Homo sapiens: one gene and its partners. The protein of the gene in region 1 purifies or fractionates together with the protein of each later gene. This does not show direct contact. Each region holds a gene or a part of one and is shown in the gene's direction. Other genes may lie near its edges. The genes, in order: KCTD21, ATP1A2, TIMM50 and PIGR.

Region 1 (4,041 bases):
GGGTCCCTGCCCCCAGACCCAGGATTTTCCTTCTGATCCAGCTTTGGGAAGTCAACAGAATTGGCCTCAGATTTTTTGCCCCAGACCTTGGTGTTTTCTCTTTTATGAAGTTAGCACAAATTGGCCTTAAGTTCCTTGTCTCCAAACCTTGTTCTCCTGCCTCACTTGCAGAATATCCAAGTGGAGGTGGCCAGGAGGCATCTGGGAACACATAGGGGACTGAGGCTCAGTGGTGTTAGTTCATTACTACCTGACTGCAAACCTCCGCCGACTCATGAAACTCCCCTCGTGTCATGTCATTTTGCCTTTTGTAGCAGGGCCGTGGATTTGTGATGATGGACACTGTGGCCCTGTGGCTAGAAAATAGGGGCTTAGACCAGGCACGGTGGCTCACGCCTGTAATCCCAGCACTTTGGGAGGCCGAGGCGGGCAGATCACAAAGTCAAGAGATCGAGACCATCCTGGCCAACATGGTGAAATCCCATCTCTACTAAAAATACAAAAATAAATTAGCCGGGCCTGGTGGCGTGCACCTGTAATTGCAGCTACCCGGGAGGCTGAGGCAGGAGTGTCGCTTGAATCTGGGAGGCAGAGGTTGCAGTGAGCTGAGATTGCGTCACTGCACTCTAGCCTGGCGACAGAGCGAGACTCCATCTCAAAAAAAAAAAAAGAAAAGAAGGGCTTAGAGGACTGAGCTCTGTGACTGGATAGGTAAGGGGAGATCACCACAGAGAGCACCCTAGACTCGGAGCAGGAGACCTGCCTGCTAGCCAGCCTCTGCCCTGACTGCCTGTGCAACTGTGCTGCTCTCCCCAGACAAATGACCGGGAGCCATGACGTCATCGGGGGCGCAGGAAAGCAGGTGCTCTGCTGCTTTTGCAAGCAGAGAAATAAGAGTTTGGGCACCTACCCAGGGGTCCCAGGGAATGCCCTGTGGCTCCTGACCTCCCCCGCCTGTAATGCTCTGAGCACTTCAGCAGTAATGCATGGAAGAGATAAGGGTCTGTGACCCATGGAACTGTCCAAGTCCTCTCTGACACCCGCTTCTTTTCCTGCCGTGAAGGTAAGCCACTTTATAGATCCTAGGCCTGAAACCCAATGTTGGGAGGGAGTGTTTGTTTTCAAGAAGAAAGAGAGACTGAAACTAGAACATGCACATTTCTATCCAGAAGAAAACAGTTGGAGTAGACTAGAGTCCTACAAAGAGGGCAACAGGGAAGAAGATTCTGGACTGAGTAAAGGGGACCCACTCCTGGGTCCACCTCCTGCCTGGGCCCTCTGGAGAGAGAATTGGCCAGATTCAGCCCTGAGTCACAGCACCCTCCCCAGTTGCTGCCTCACAGCCATCTCCACACCAGCAGCCATGCCCCCAGCGGCAGCTCGCCCACACCTCTGTGGGACCTCCCCACCGTCTCGCAGCCCATCTGCTCCAGGCTTCTACTGACGATTTCGTATTTCACATGGACTCATTTCTCCTCAGACACTCCAGATGGGGAATGCCTTTCTGCAATATCAAAGTGCCCCATTAGACTGGGGAGGAATCATGAGGGGACATACCCCTGCCCCTGCCACAGAGTCGAGCATGGCAGCTGAATATCTCTCACACTGGCATGGCCCCCATCCTCTGGAGAAAGGAGGCCTCAGTGCAGTCAGCCTCTTCAGGAGGCAGAAATGTTGAGAAGTTCTCGCCACCCCTGCTGGGTGACTTTGGGGAGGTGTCTCCTCAGACCTCTGTTTCTCCATCTGGACGGTAAGCATGCTTGAAAGGTTGGGTTTTTGTTTGTTTTTTGAGACCGGATCTCCCTCTGTCTGCCAGGCTGGAGTTCTGTGGCGTAATCACGGCTCACTGCAGCCTCAACCTCCCAGACTCAAGCGATCCTCCCACCTCAGCCTCCCAAGTAGTTGGGACTACAGGTGCTCGCCACCACACCCTGCTTTGTTGTTGTTGTTGTTGTTGTTGTTGTTGTTGTTGTAGAGACAGGATTTCGTCATGTTGGCCAGGCTGGCCTTGAACTCCTGAGCTCAAACGATCTGCCCACCTCGGCCTCCCAAAGTGCTGGAATTACAGGCATGAGCCACTGTGTCTGCCAGCCAGATAGTTTTTGATGTGCCAAGGTTCATTCCAGACCATCTCCCACATCTTCTACCTGTCTTGTCACTGTGCCTTTACTCTCTCATCTCCTCTACCAGCACAGGCTCTTCTGGGGGTAATACTGGGGCCAGTTCCTCTTGGCATCCCTACCTGCCATGTCAGGGAAGGATTGCTGAATCTGGTCCACAGGTTGGCTCTGGGGAAAGTATAGTGTTGGAAGCTGGAGCTGAGATCTCCTGTTTTCTAGAACATGTGGTGAAGGAGACTTGCCAGCCATAGATGCTGACAGCTGAGAGATTAGGGGGGCTTTGTTAAGGAGTGGATAGGGTGCCTTCAGGAGAGTGCTCTGACAGAGTCCTGCATTTGCACTGACCTTGCAGCCAGTTTCAGAGAAGCTTGGGGTGTTATGACAGCAAAGGACAGGCCACCAGGAGCCAAGAGCATCTTCATGGCAAGGCAAGTCAGCATGGGAGCAGTGAAAGTCTAGAAAGGATTGTCATTCACATGCACACGTATGTTTATTGCGGCACTATTCACAGTAGCAAAGACTTGGAACCAACCCAAATGTCCAACAATGATAGACTGGATTAAGAAAATGTGGCACATATACACCATGGAATACTATGCAGCCATAAAAAATGATGAGTTCATGTCCTTTGTAGGGACATGGATGAAATTGGAAATAATCATTCTCAGTAAAGACTACTGCAAGGACAAAAAACCAAACACCGCATGTTCTCACTCATAGGTGGGAATTGAACAATGAGAACACATGGACACAGGAAGGGGAACATCACACTCTGGGGACTGTTGTGGGGTAGGGGGAGGGGAGAGGGATAGCATTAGGAGATATACCTAATGCTAAATGACGAGTTAATGGGTGCAGCACACCAGCATGGCGCATGTATACATATGTAACTAACCTGCACATTGTGCACATGTACCCTAAAACTTTAATAATAATAAAATTTAAAAAAATTTAAAAAAAACAGGATTGTCATTTGCAGTCCGGACAGCTGAGTGACCCACTGTGGGCCTTGAAGATAGATGGAAATGACACTAATCATGGCCATTCATTGTCAAATCTTTGAGAGAGAATAATAATTAAATTCAGCAGTGTCACTGGTACAGAAGGAGGAGCACTGAGCCTGGAGTCATAAATCTCAAACCATTTGTTGAGTACTTAGAACCGATCTTTGGCTAGTAAGCATTTACACATTTTTCTTTCATATAAAAGGACCTGAGTTTGAATCCTGGCAAGGCACTTCACCTTTCTGAGCTTGAGGAATGAATCCTGGCACAGTTTTCCTCATCTGCACAACAGGAATGGATGATTATATTGTCTGTGTCAAAAGATGATACAACCTTTTTTTTTTTTTTTTTTTTGAGACAGAGTTTCACTCTTGTTGTCCAGGCTGGAGTGCAGTTGTTCAGTCCCGGCTCACTGCAACCTCCACCTCCTGAGTTCAAATGATTCTCCTGCCCCAGCCTCCTGAACAGCTGGGATTACAGGCACCCACCACCATGCCCAGCTAATTTTTGTATTTTTAGTAGAGATGGGGTTTCACCATGTTGGCCAGTCTGATCTTGAACTCCTGATCTCAGGTGATCTGCCCGCCTCGGCCTCCCTAAGTGCTGGGATTACAGGTGTGAGCCACCGCACCTGGCTGATACAACTATTATGTAAGCAAATATATGTATAAACACGTAGCATAGCTTTCAGTCCAGGCACGTTTTCCTTTCTTTCTTTAGACCAGTGGTTCTCTATTCTAACTGAACATTTAGAATCACTAAGGGAACTCTTTCAAAATACCAGGGCTGGGGCAGTATTCCAGACCAATTAAAATAGAATGTCGGCAGCAGAGGGGGGCGCGGGGGACCCAGGCTTTAGGGGTCCTTCCCTTTCTTTCCCTGTTTCCTTTTTCCTTTCCTTTTCCCTTTCTCCTTTC
Region 2 (4,041 bases), on another chromosome or scaffold:
AGGAGGGACTGGATTTGGGGAAGAACTGGAGTCAGGGAGAGACAGGTTAAGAGGCCATTGCCATAGTTCAGGCAAAGAATGATGACCTGAACTAGGGCAGAAACAAAGGGAATGGAGAGGAATAGCCATGTCTGAGAAATGTTTTGAGAACTTGGTGACCAAACTGGATATGGAAGGTGAGGAAGATACAGGAGAGAAGGGGACAGGATGAATAGAGAGGACAACATCTAAGGTAGGGAGCAGTAGCAGGCTTGGTGGGGTGGCAGGAGTAGAGAAAAGGAGTTCAATGTTGACCTTAAGCTTAAAGAGTCTATAAGATACCCCAGGAAAGACAGATGTTCCAGTGAACATTGGAGTATGGTTTAGAGCTCATGAAAGATGGTCAGGACTGGAGATTTGAATCTCATTAGCACAAGGGTGCAAACTAAAGGCTTATAGTATGTTGTATTATATTGCCCAGAAAGAGCAGACAGGTCAAGTGAAGGGAGGAGAATGAAATCCTGTGCCAAACCAACATTTAGGCACAAGAGGAACCAGTGAGGAGGGGAGAGGGTGGTAGGAACCAATGCCATTTAATCTTCATGACCACCTAGAAAGGCAGGAATCATCTCTGCATTGTGCTGAGACCTCAGTGCTTCACTTGCCTAAGGTGCTGTAGCTGGAGAAGGTCGGTGTTTAAACTTGAGCCCCTCATTCAACTCCAAAGCCACTGCTTCTTCCATCCTACTAGGCTGCCACCCTGAGAGGCTGGGAAAGAGCATGCAGAGGAGTGGAGGGAAAACAGGAATGGAGGAGTATGTGGAAGCCAGGGGAGGGCAGGGTTTCAAGGAGAAGAGGTCAACGGTGCCAAATGCCTCAGAGGGGTCAAGTAGGATGAGGACGGCAAAGACACTTTTCATTTTTCAATTGAGAGGCCCCTGTGGCCTTTGGGTGGCAGTTTCAGTGAAGTGGTGGGAGTGGAAGATAAGGCAGTGGGGACCATGGAGGCTTCCTTTTCAGTATCCATAGGACTTGCCCTGCAAGCCCACACATGCAAATGCTATCCTAACCCAACTCTGCTCACCTCATAGCCTCTTAGCCCATCAGATGCCAGCCACCCTCCCCATCCCAACTCCATTCACTCTGCAACAATAGCAATGAACATTATGGTGAAGGTAGGGACCACCGTGCTCACCAGGGAGGATGTCAGAGGCAGATGCTCAAGGTGGTGGAGGCAGGGGTGTTGTCTCCATCTTATTCCTGTTCTGTCCATTACATTGCTGCAGTGATCAATATTTGACACTAAGAACCTCATGTCCTATATCCAGGTCCCTGTGCATTTGAGCAAATTGTAGCCCCTCTCTAAGCCTTGGTTTCCTCATGTGTAAAATAAAGGAGTTGTTAAAGGGTCCTTCCAGCTCTGACTGCCTTGAATCCCATGAAATCCAAAATCCTAAAATATCTCCTAAATAATCCTAAAGATTTGAGGCTTCTCTTCCAGGGGATCCTCATGAACTTGTTACTCTGTTATGGATACTTTCCTGCACTTAAGCAAACTATCTCTCTCTAACCCTCTGAACATAACTCAACTTGCCATTATCTTTCCTCCTCACCCACCCACTCAAATTCACACAGACACACACAAATCCCCACCTCACATACACACACATCCCACACACACACATAGACACACACAATCCCCACCCCCCACACACACATCTCACACACACGCACACATACACAAATCCCCACCCCACATACACACACACACACATACCCCACACACACACACACATCCCACACACACACATTCCCTCTCACACACACACACAATCCCCACCCCCTCACACACACACAATCCCCACCCACACACACACACACACATCCTACACACACATACACACACCCCACACACACACACATACACACACACACATACACCCCACCCCAGCCACTCCCCTGCCCACAGACGCACACACACATGCCCTTATTTCGGTTGGGATCTGCCATCCCCAGACATCTCGCTATCTAGCTTTCTCTTACTTTGGGAGAGGAACAGGAGGGGGATAAACCCTTAATACTACTTTCCTGTTGTCTCCTCTCCTTCCCACTAGGTGATCATGGTAACCGGGGATCACCCTATCACAGCCAAGGCCATTGCCAAAGGCGTGGGCATCATATCAGAGGGTAACGAGACTGTGGAGGACATTGCAGCCCGGCTCAACATTCCCATGAGTCAAGTCAACCCCAGGTGAGGCCTCTGCAGGAAGCCCCTGTGCCCTAATCAACACGTCCTCTTGCACAGAAGGCTTGGGTGTCCCCTGGGAGTATTTGGATAGCATTTCTGGGACCTTTATAGGCCTTACCTCTGACACTATTGTGACTGGTTCCTCAGCCCTGAGCTTGTATCCAGGCTGTGCCACTGAATACCCATGTAACCTTGGAGATGTCACATTCCCTTCCTGAGCCTCCATTTTCTCACCACAAAATTAGGATGCCATCTCCACTGCTGTAGGAGTGGGATGTGAGTAAAGAAACTAGCCCAGGGCCTAGCAAACTGCACTTACAACTGCGATGATCCCATGGTGAGGATTTAGACTCACATTCTCAAAGAGAAATGGGGGAAGTGAGTACTGAGGAGAGGAGAACTGAAGCAACAGGGGAAGCAGGCTCAGCAGGGAGCCTGCAGGCTGCGGTGGTGAAGAGAGGCAGGGGGCAGGAGGGGCTGGTACAGGTGCCAGGGGTCAGCTGTCTCTGTCCCCACCCACCCTCCAGAGAAGCCAAGGCATGCGTGGTGCACGGCTCTGACCTGAAGGACATGACATCGGAGCAGCTCGATGAGATCCTCAAGAACCACACAGAGATCGTCTTTGCTCGAACGTCTCCCCAGCAGAAGCTCATCATTGTGGAGGGATGTCAGAGGCAGGTGAGCACAGCCACGGGAGGCAGATGACAGGCAGGGACCGGGGAGGCAGGGACAGGGCCAAGACAAGCATGGAGTGAGAGGCGAGGAGCCAGGCTTGGGAAGGGGTTTCGTCCTCAAGTGTGGCCGTCTTCCCTCCAGGGAGCCATTGTGGCCGTGACGGGTGACGGGGTGAACGACTCCCCTGCATTGAAGAAGGCTGACATTGGCATTGCCATGGGCATCTCTGGCTCTGACGTCTCTAAGCAGGCAGCCGACATGATCCTGCTGGATGACAACTTTGCCTCCATCGTCACGGGGGTGGAGGAGGGTGAGGAGGCTGCATGGGTTGGGATGGTTTGCAGGATACTGAAGCCGGCACCTCTGTTCCCTGTCCCTTTACCCCAGTTGAAGAATCATTCCACAACTCTAGGCAGCCCAGCCCACTTTAGCTTCCCTTGAACACAAAATCTTCCTCTCTTGGGAAGACAGGCAGCCATGCTTCAGGGGCTGGGGGTGGGGAAGAGTCCCTCTGACCTCCCTGATGCCCTCAGAATCTCCCCACAGGCCGCCTGATCTTTGACAACTTGAAGAAATCCATCGCCTACACCCTGACCAGCAACATCCCCGAGATCACCCCCTTCCTGCTGTTCATCATTGCCAACATCCCCCTACCTCTGGGCACTGTGACCATCCTTTGCATTGACCTGGGCACAGATATGGTGAGCGCAGGAGGTGGAGGAGGGGACAGGCAAGGCAATCGTGATGGCACAGTGGCAGGGAGGAGAGGTGCACTGGGGCAGTGGCCCCAGCTGTGGGGGTTACAGGAGACAGGCACAGGCCTGGAAGACAATGGGGTCTGAATACACGCTTTTTTAACTGTGTCAACGATCGTCACTGTCGAAGATCAATTGCTTCTGTCATCTCCTACGTCCCTTCAAATGCCCTCCCTGCCCCATTTCCTACCCCACACAGGTCCCTGCCATCTCCTTGGCCTATGAGGCAGCTGAGAGTGATATCATGAAGCGGCAGCCACGAAACTCCCAGACGGACAAGCTGGTGAATGAGAGGCTCATCAGCATGGCCTACGGACAGATCGGTGCGCCAAGCCCCGGGCCTCGGGAGGGAACCCCAACAGGGTTCTTTTCCCAGCTTTCAGA
Region 3 (4,041 bases), on another chromosome or scaffold:
AGAGTGGCCACCTCCCTCTCCAGGGAACTTCCTAATCACCTCTCTGTGTGCTAGGCCCTGGGTCTAGAAGTCTATGTGATTAGCTCCCCAATATCCTGGGGGTTGTTTTGTTTTTTGTTTCTGAGACAGGGTTTTGCTCTGTCACCCAGGCTGGAGTGCAGTGGTGTGATGAACATGGCTCACTGCAGTCTCAACCTTCTGGGCTCAAGCGATCTTCCCACCTCAGCCTCCTGAGTAGCTGGGCCTATAGGCACACACCACCATGCCTGGCTAATTTTTATTTTTATTTTTATTTATTTATTTTTTTTGTGAGACGGAGTCTCGCTCTGTTGCCTAGGCTGGAGTGCAGTGGCGCGATCTTGGTTCACTGCAACCTCCCCCTCCCAGGTTCAAGCGATTCTCTTTCCTCAGCCTCCCGAGTAGCTGGGACTACAAGCACACACCACCACACCCAGCTAATTTTTTGTATTTTTAGTAGAGACAGAGTTTCGCCATGTTGCCCAGGCTGGTTTTGAACTCCTGAGCTCAGGCAATCTGCCCACCTTGGCCTCCCAAAATTCTGGGAGTACGGTCGTGAGCCACCGCACCCGGCCATTTTTTGTATTTAGTAGATACGGGGTTTCACCATTTTAGCCAGGCTGGTCTTGAACTCCTGACCTCAGGTGATCCGCCCGCCTCGGCCTCCCAAAGTGCTGGGATTACAGGCGTGAGCCACCATGCCTGGCCCTCTGTGGGGGTCGATGCCATCATCCAAAGCCGGTCTTTGAGAGGCCCTGCCATTGTGATCCCAGTATGTGTGATGCTGTGTATGTATGTATGTTTTGTGTGTTTTGGGTCTTCTTGATGGGGGGAGAGTTGGGCACAGATGTTGACCTGATCTGTCACTCACTTCCAGGATATTTCATGTCTGAATCGGGACCCAGCTCGAGTAGTAGTTGTGGACTGCAAGAAGGAAGCCTTCCGCCTGCAGCCCTATAACGGCGTTGCCCTGCGGCCCTGGGACGGCAACTCTGATGACCGGGTCTTGTTGGATCTGTCTGCCTTCCTCAAGAGTAAGGCTGACCCCTGATCCCTTGGCCTCTGACCCCAGAGCCCCTGACTCTGAAGAGGAAGGATAAATGCATGATTCATGGCTGGGCGACTGAGGTGCAAGAGGTGCCTGAGCACCTTGGAGTCTTTAGGAGCTTCTTAGGATGTTCATGGAATGTTTGGGGGATACTTGGGGATGTTCAGGGGAGCCCTTTCAGAGCGTTCAGAAGCATTCCAGGTAGCACTGACTGCCCCCGTGCCCCAGTGCGGGACGTTCCCCTCATGGGCCCTGCCTCCCTCTGGCCTTTAGAAGCCTGGCTGACCACCCCCTGTTGTGCCCACAGCCATTGCACTGAATGGTGTGGAGGACGTGCGAACCGTGCTGGAGCACTATGCCCTGGAGGATGACCCGCTGGCGGCTTTCAAACAGCGGCAAAGCCGGCTAGAGCAGGTTGGTGCTCAGATGCCCAGAGTGGAGGATCGGCTCTGAGGCTCCTGAAGGAGGAGCCTGGGGCAGTCCATCTCCACACTCTTGGTTTGGCTGTGTGACCCTGAGCAGATACCTCCTCTCTGCCTCAGTCTCTGTAACCAGGGGGATATAACACAGCCTGTCCTGTAGGGCTGCCAGAATGAGGGGATGCATTGATTCTGCAGCCTGCTCTGAGAACAGGAAACAGGAGAGGATTTGAGATTAGGCTGGGAGAGGGGTTGCCCTTGATGGTCTTGAGTAGGTCTGGGGGCACCTTGTGGAGGTGGATTGTGGGTTTTAGATCAGGCCTGGAAAGAGGCTCCCTGGGCACGTGGCCCAAGGCTGTGGGGAGAGATGTGATAGTCTTGGTGGGACCCTGGTAATTTGGAAGTGGGACTGAGAGTATGGATTGCGTCTGGGTAAGATTCCCAGGGGTCTAGGCTGAGGTTCACCAGATTCTAGGTTAGGTTCCTAGAGTTGGGAGCCCCTGAGTGCCCAGAGAAGTCCCTAGAGATTTGGGCCTGGGGACCCCCCAGGGAACCCCCCACCCCTGCATCCAGAGAGGGGTCATGGGGCTCAGAGGGCCCAGGGGCAGGATGATGCAGTCTGGTGAGGAGGGCCATGGGGTTTGGACCTGGGATCTCACCAGCATTCACCTTGGGGTAACAGGGTCTGCGATAGGATCTCAGGCTCAGGGGAGGGGTCCCTGGGATCTGGGGAAGGAGATTATGACAGTCTGGGGCCTGAGAACCTACTGCAGTTCAGGCCTGAATACCTCGAGTGCCTAGTATTGGAGTCTGTCGTCCCCCAAACATTGAAGCCTAGGCTCCTGCGGCTCAGAGCTGGCTCTTCCTAGTGTCTGGGGTGGGGGGACTGGGGTCTAGGGTCCCTTGTGTCTGGGCTGGGGGCCCCAGGGTTTGGGGAAAGGGGTCTGGACTTGGCAGAAGTCAGAAGGAAAGGTGGTCCCTGGGCTGAGGCCTGGGGACCTGGGCATCTGGGAGGAGGCTCTGTCCACCTTGCGCTGACCCTCTCCTCCAACTGTCCCCCTACCCCAGGAGGAGCAGCAGCGCCTGGCCGAGCTCTCCAAGTCCAACAAGCAGAACCTCTTCCTTGGCTCCCTCACCAGCCGCTTGTGGCCTCGCTCCAAACAGCCCTGAACTCTGGGCCTCCTCAAACTCAGTGCCTGGGTCCAGGGCCCCAGTGCTTCCAGACCAAGACTTGGGCCACCACTTGTCCAATAAAGTACATCCCAGACGCCACACCTGCTGTGTCCCGAGAGTCTCCAGATGGGGGCATCAGGGTGAGGTCCGGGACTCTTGGGTCATCGTCCCACAGTGGCTGATCGGCTGCCAAGCACAGTGGGGGTGCTTTGTTGGATCAGAGCAGATTTTTCACCCTGGTCTCGGAATCTAAAAACCCTCGCTGTGTCTTCCTGTGTGTTGCGTGATCTGTGAAAAATACATCTCCCTCTGACCACAGACTCCTCATCTGTGGAGAAGGGAAGAGAGGATGGCACTTGGCTTTAAAGACAGGTAGCTGCCAGGCTACTGTGGAGAGAATGTGTTATGGGCCTAGTGGGCCTCTGGTGGACCAGAGATTACCCCTCTCAACAGGCCAGCTGCTGGTTGGCTCCAGCCAGTGTGGCCCTGGGGTAAAGGGGGCCTGGAGTTGCTTGACACGCCAGTTGTTCAAAAGAAGCAAGAACTTGGGAATATTTTTTTTTTTTTTTTGAGACAGGGTCTCACTGTTGCCCAGGCTGGAGTGCATTGATGTGATCTTAGCTTACAACAGCCTTGACCTCCCGGCTCAAGTGATCTCCAAGTGACCCTCCTGCCTCAGCCTCCTGAGTACCCTCCTGGGGACTACAGGTGCGTGCTACCATACCCAGCTAATTTAAACAAATTTTTTTTTTGTAGAGATGGGGTCTTGGTGCCCAAGCTGGTCTCAAACTCCTAGTCTTAAGCAATCTTCCTGCTTTGGCCTCCCAAAGCGCTAGGATTCCAGGTGTGAGCTACTGTGCCCAGCTAAAATAGGGATTTTTATATTAAATCTCCCTATTTTAAAATGTTGGCTCCTAGCGGGGCGCAGTGGCTCACGCCTGTAATCCCAGCACTTTGGGAGGCTGAGGTGGGTGGATCACCTGAGGTCAGGAGTTCAAGACCAGCCTCAACATGGAGAAACCCCATCTCTACTAAAAATACAAAATTAGCTGGGCGTGGTGGAGCATGCCTGTGATCCCAGCTACTCAGGAGGCTGAGGCAGGAGAATTGCTTGAACCTGGGAGGCGGAGGTTGTGGTGAGCCGAGATCGCACCATTGCACTCCAGCCTGGGCAACAGCAGCGAAACTCCATCTCAAAAAATAAAATAAAATAAAAATAAAATGTTGGCTTCTAACTAAAACAGGCAGATATGTAGCAGTGTTCTCCACTGGAACTTTCTGTGATGTTTGGTTCATGTTCTAGGTCTGTACTGTCCAGTACAGTAGCCAGTGGCCACATAAACCTTTGTTTTTTTTTTTTGAGACGGAGTTTCGCTCTTATTG
Region 4 (4,041 bases), on another chromosome or scaffold:
TATCTGGGGGAAAAAAAAGAAAAGAAAATCATCTACAAAGTGCTTTTAGAAATATAAGGAAATAACACATGGCAAGTGCAAACATGTAACACCTTACGAAAGTGGTGTTATTGTTTGAAAAAACAATGGATGGCTGGATGCTGGCTCACAGCTGTAATGCCAGCACTTTGGGAGGCCAAGGAGGGTGGATTGCTTGAGGTCAGTAGCTCAAGACCAGCCTGGCCAACATGGAGAAACCTTGTCTCTACTAAATAGAAACCAAAATTAGCTAGCATGCACCTGTAGTCCCAACTACTTGGGAGGCTGAGGCATGAGAATCGCTTGAACCTGGGAAGCGGAGGTTGCAGTGAGCCGAGATCGTGCCACTGCACACCAGCCTGGGCGACAGAGAGAGACTTTGTCTCAAAACAATAAAAATATATAAAATAAAAAACAAGGGTTATCATAAATTTGTCATTCCCTTGTCCTTGAAATGGTTATCATTAATGAATAACAATTCCAATTTAATCATGATTAAAACAGTCACTTTATTTAATCTCAGCAATTTTCCAGCTGTGATATATGATAAATTATCAACACAGGGCCTACGTGTCAGGTAGAAAACCACATCTACTCATAGTGGGTTATCTGGAACAGGCTTTACCTCCCAAGGGCCTCAGAAAGCCTCTCTCTTCTGTTCCCACAGCCATCTCCACGAAGAGTCCCATATTTGGTCCCGAGGAGGTGAATAGTGTGGAAGGTAACTCAGTGTCCATCACGTGCTACTACCCACCCACCTCTGTCAACCGGCACACCCGGAAGTACTGGTGCCGGCAGGGAGCTAGAGGTGGCTGCATAACCCTCATCTCCTCGGAGGGCTACGTCTCCAGCAAATATGCAGGCAGGGCTAACCTCACCAACTTCCCGGAGAACGGCACATTTGTGGTGAACATTGCCCAGCTGAGCCAGGATGACTCCGGGCGCTACAAGTGTGGCCTGGGCATCAATAGCCGAGGCCTGTCCTTTGATGTCAGCCTGGAGGTCAGCCAGGGTAAGGATCCAAGCTCCTTGGGCTTCTGGGGGAAAGTTAGAGGGAATTCTCTAAGGTGCATGGAGGGCTTGAGGAGGAACTTCCTGACAAGGATGTGTAGCCGGGTTGGGGGTCAGAAGGCACCCCTTTCCCCAGGCAAAGACTTCTTTAACAGGAGAAGGAGACAGATAGGGCCTACTTGGGGGTGATGAGTGAACCCTTCTAGGACTTGGTGGCCTATAACATTTTAGGCTTTCTGGAGACCCCAGCTTAGAAGGGTATCAGAAGGACAAGTTTTCTGGTGTTTGCTACAGGTAGAAAGGGAAATCTGACATCAGGCTAAGGAGATAGAAAAGGTAGGGAGAGATTTACAGGGATCCTTAAATTCCTATCATTAATGCACCTTTCCATCAAGGTTTGGGCCGCCAAAAGGCTTCTTGTAAAATGCATATTTTTTTTTTAACCTGGGAACCCTTAGTCTTTTGGTATTATCAGGGTAAATTAGATTATTAGATCTTGACCAAAGACCAAGATCCTGAAAGGATGGGTTGCTAACAAGCCTATTCTAGTTGGAGAAAGAGAAAAAAAGAAAAGCTCTTTCTGACAAGGGTTTAACAATGAGGCTGTTTTAGATAGTCAAGGGCAACTCAAAAGAGAGGTCTACGGAGAAAAGAAATTCAGGGGGACTCCCAAAGACATGTCTTGCTCCTTTGGAATATGCATACTATTGTCTGTGGACTAAATGAGGAGGTCATTTAGGTGGGGATCAAGATTCAAAACCACAGAATCTTTAGAGGTGAAGAGGGCTTAGAGTTCACCCTAACCGGACACTTAGAAGAACATGCTGATGACGGGTATGCAGCCTCTGATTAAGCACTTTAGCAGAAACTCACTGCTCCCTGAGACAGCCCATTTCACATTTAGACTCTTGTAATTTTTAGAAACTTCTATTGTATGCGTTGAAATCCATCACCCTGCATTTACATTCATTCTGTTCATTTCAGCACACATTAATTTGGCCACCTACTACCCAGAGGCATTGTGCTTGTCACAGCAGAGGGGTCAAACATGAGAAAAACATGTTCCAGCCTTCAAGGAACTTCCAGTCCATGGAGAACATAATTACCCATACACCAGATTGGATGTAATAAGTGATGCAGATGTATCAAGAAAGCACAGGGCAGGGAGAGATTAGTGTTAGCTTGGGAAAGGTTTCATGGAGAAGACCGCTGTCAAGCTGGGCCTTCCGACAGCATTCCTCTGGGAAGGAGGGCATTCCAGGTTATAAGTCCACCCACACCCTAACTAGGAATAGCAAATAGTCCTATGTTGCAAGAAAGTAGAATCGTAACTTGCCTGCCCCCTACCTTGCACCCCTCATCCTGCAGGTCCTGGGCTCCTAAATGACACTAAAGTCTACACAGTGGACCTGGGCAGAACGGTGACCATCAACTGCCCTTTCAAGACTGAGAATGCTCAAAAGAGGAAGTCCTTGTACAAGCAGATAGGCCTGTACCCTGTGCTGGTCATCGACTCCAGTGGTTATGTAAATCCCAACTATACAGGAAGAATACGCCTTGATATTCAGGGTACTGGCCAGTTACTGTTCAGCGTTGTCATCAACCAACTCAGGCTCAGCGATGCTGGGCAGTATCTCTGCCAGGCTGGGGATGATTCCAATAGTAATAAGAAGAATGCTGACCTCCAAGTGCTAAAGCCCGAGCCCGAGCTGGTTTATGAAGACCTGAGGGGCTCAGTGACCTTCCACTGTGCCCTGGGCCCTGAGGTGGCAAACGTGGCCAAATTTCTGTGCCGACAGAGCAGTGGGGAAAACTGTGACGTGGTCGTCAACACCCTGGGGAAGAGGGCCCCAGCCTTTGAGGGCAGGATCCTGCTCAACCCCCAGGACAAGGATGGCTCATTCAGTGTGGTGATCACAGGCCTGAGGAAGGAGGATGCAGGGCGCTACCTGTGTGGAGCCCATTCGGATGGTCAGCTGCAGGAAGGCTCGCCTATCCAGGCCTGGCAACTCTTCGTCAATGAGGGTAAGACCCTAGAGAGGGAGGGGGAGTAGGTGGGGCAGTCTCGCAGGTGAGAGCCAAGCTCAGCTCCCTCTGAGTGTATTCATCAATAGTCATCAATCAGCCAACAGCATCCACTCAATGACCAGCCCCGAACTGGAGGCTGCGTGGGCTGCTGCACAGGACAGCAAGAAAAAGCAACCTCTGCCTGATGGCAGCTCCTAATTACTCTTCTGTTATCAAAGTCATTTTGATGGCTGTCCCTGCTTAACAAGCAAGAGGTGAGTAAAGCTCTTGATTGAGGCAGGACTTATAGACTGTGTTTCAGGGCTGTGGCAGGCTCTGCAGGGGTCCTCTGTCCCCTCCCCTGGCCCCTGAACAAGATGGGTGCCTCATCCCTCACATTCAGATGGAAAAAGGATTGGCTTATCTTGGTCTCAATGCGTTCCCAGGAGTGCCCCAGCCTCTAAATGTTTCACTGTCACATTTCGTAGGGTTATTTGTGAATTTCAGCACCATCTGGCCCACTCAGCCCTACTCCAGTGAGCCATCAGCATGGTGAAAGAATTAAATCCCAGCTCCTTCTCATCCCAGAGCACCCTGCATAGAGTTGCCCTCGTGAGAAGCAGCAAACCAGTACTTGCAGTTCCAAGTATCTGTGCTTGTGACTTTTTTTTTTTAAAGGGGCTTATATTCTCTGCATGCCATGTCCACATCCAGCTCTGGGTTTTCACCAGAATCCCCTGCATCTTTGGTCACCTGCTTCTCTCTGGATCTCAGCTTTAGCTGCCTGGAGAATGGCTATCGTCTTTGAGATGCCCCTTGGGGCCCCAACAATTAAGCTCACCTTTGCTACATACTTTATAGTTTACATCATACCATCCTAAATATATTTTCTTGATTTGGGCATAATCCATTGGGCCACTTTTGTGGAATACACTTGTTAGTGTACTAAATAGACAAAAACCTACACAGAGGGAGACTTTGTAAGAAGCCAAAGAAGAGCTGATA

Evidence for each region.
Region 2: the proteins of KCTD21 (region 1) and ATP1A2 purify together in Homo sapiens (affinity purification with mass spectrometry, with the first as the bait; one large-scale study listed by BioGRID). This does not show direct contact.
Region 3: the proteins of KCTD21 (region 1) and TIMM50 purify together in Homo sapiens (affinity purification with mass spectrometry, with the first as the bait; one large-scale study listed by BioGRID). This does not show direct contact.
Region 4: the proteins of KCTD21 (region 1) and PIGR purify together in Homo sapiens (affinity purification with mass spectrometry, with the first as the bait; one large-scale study listed by BioGRID). This does not show direct contact.

Annotation. Positions count from the first base shown.
Region 1 is NC_000011.10:78,174,761-78,178,801, reverse strand, and holds part of KCTD21 (BTB/POZ domain-containing protein KCTD21), read left to right. Parts: intron 1-816; exon of another isoform or gene 817-1,671; coding exon of another isoform or gene 1,672-1,750; intron 1,751-4,041. UniProt on the Homo sapiens protein: Probable substrate-specific adapter of a BCR (BTB-CUL3-RBX1) E3 ubiquitin-protein ligase complex mediating the ubiquitination and subsequent proteasomal degradation of target proteins. Promotes the ubiquitination of HDAC1.
Region 2 is NC_000001.11:160,132,391-160,136,431, forward strand, and holds part of ATP1A2 (sodium/potassium-transporting ATPase subunit alpha-2 precursor), read left to right. Parts: intron 1-2,093; coding exon 2,094-2,230; intron 2,231-2,754; coding exon 2,755-2,905; intron 2,906-3,043; coding exon 3,044-3,212; intron 3,213-3,448; coding exon 3,449-3,603; intron 3,604-3,856; coding exon 3,857-3,980; intron 3,981-4,041. UniProt on the Homo sapiens protein: This is the catalytic component of the active enzyme, which catalyzes the hydrolysis of ATP coupled with the exchange of sodium and potassium ions across the plasma membrane.
Region 3 is NC_000019.10:39,487,166-39,491,206, forward strand, and holds part of TIMM50 (mitochondrial import inner membrane translocase subunit TIM50), read left to right. Parts: intron 1-895; coding exon 896-1,052; intron 1,053-1,373; coding exon 1,374-1,480; intron 1,481-2,553; coding exon 2,554-2,655; 3' UTR 2,656-4,041. UniProt on the Homo sapiens protein: Essential component of the TIM23 complex, a complex that mediates the translocation of transit peptide-containing proteins across the mitochondrial inner membrane. Has some phosphatase activity in vitro; however such activity may not be relevant in vivo.
Region 4 is NC_000001.11:206,936,108-206,940,148, reverse strand, and holds part of PIGR (polymeric immunoglobulin receptor precursor), read left to right. Parts: intron 1-685; coding exon 686-1,030; intron 1,031-2,397; coding exon 2,398-3,054; intron 3,055-4,041.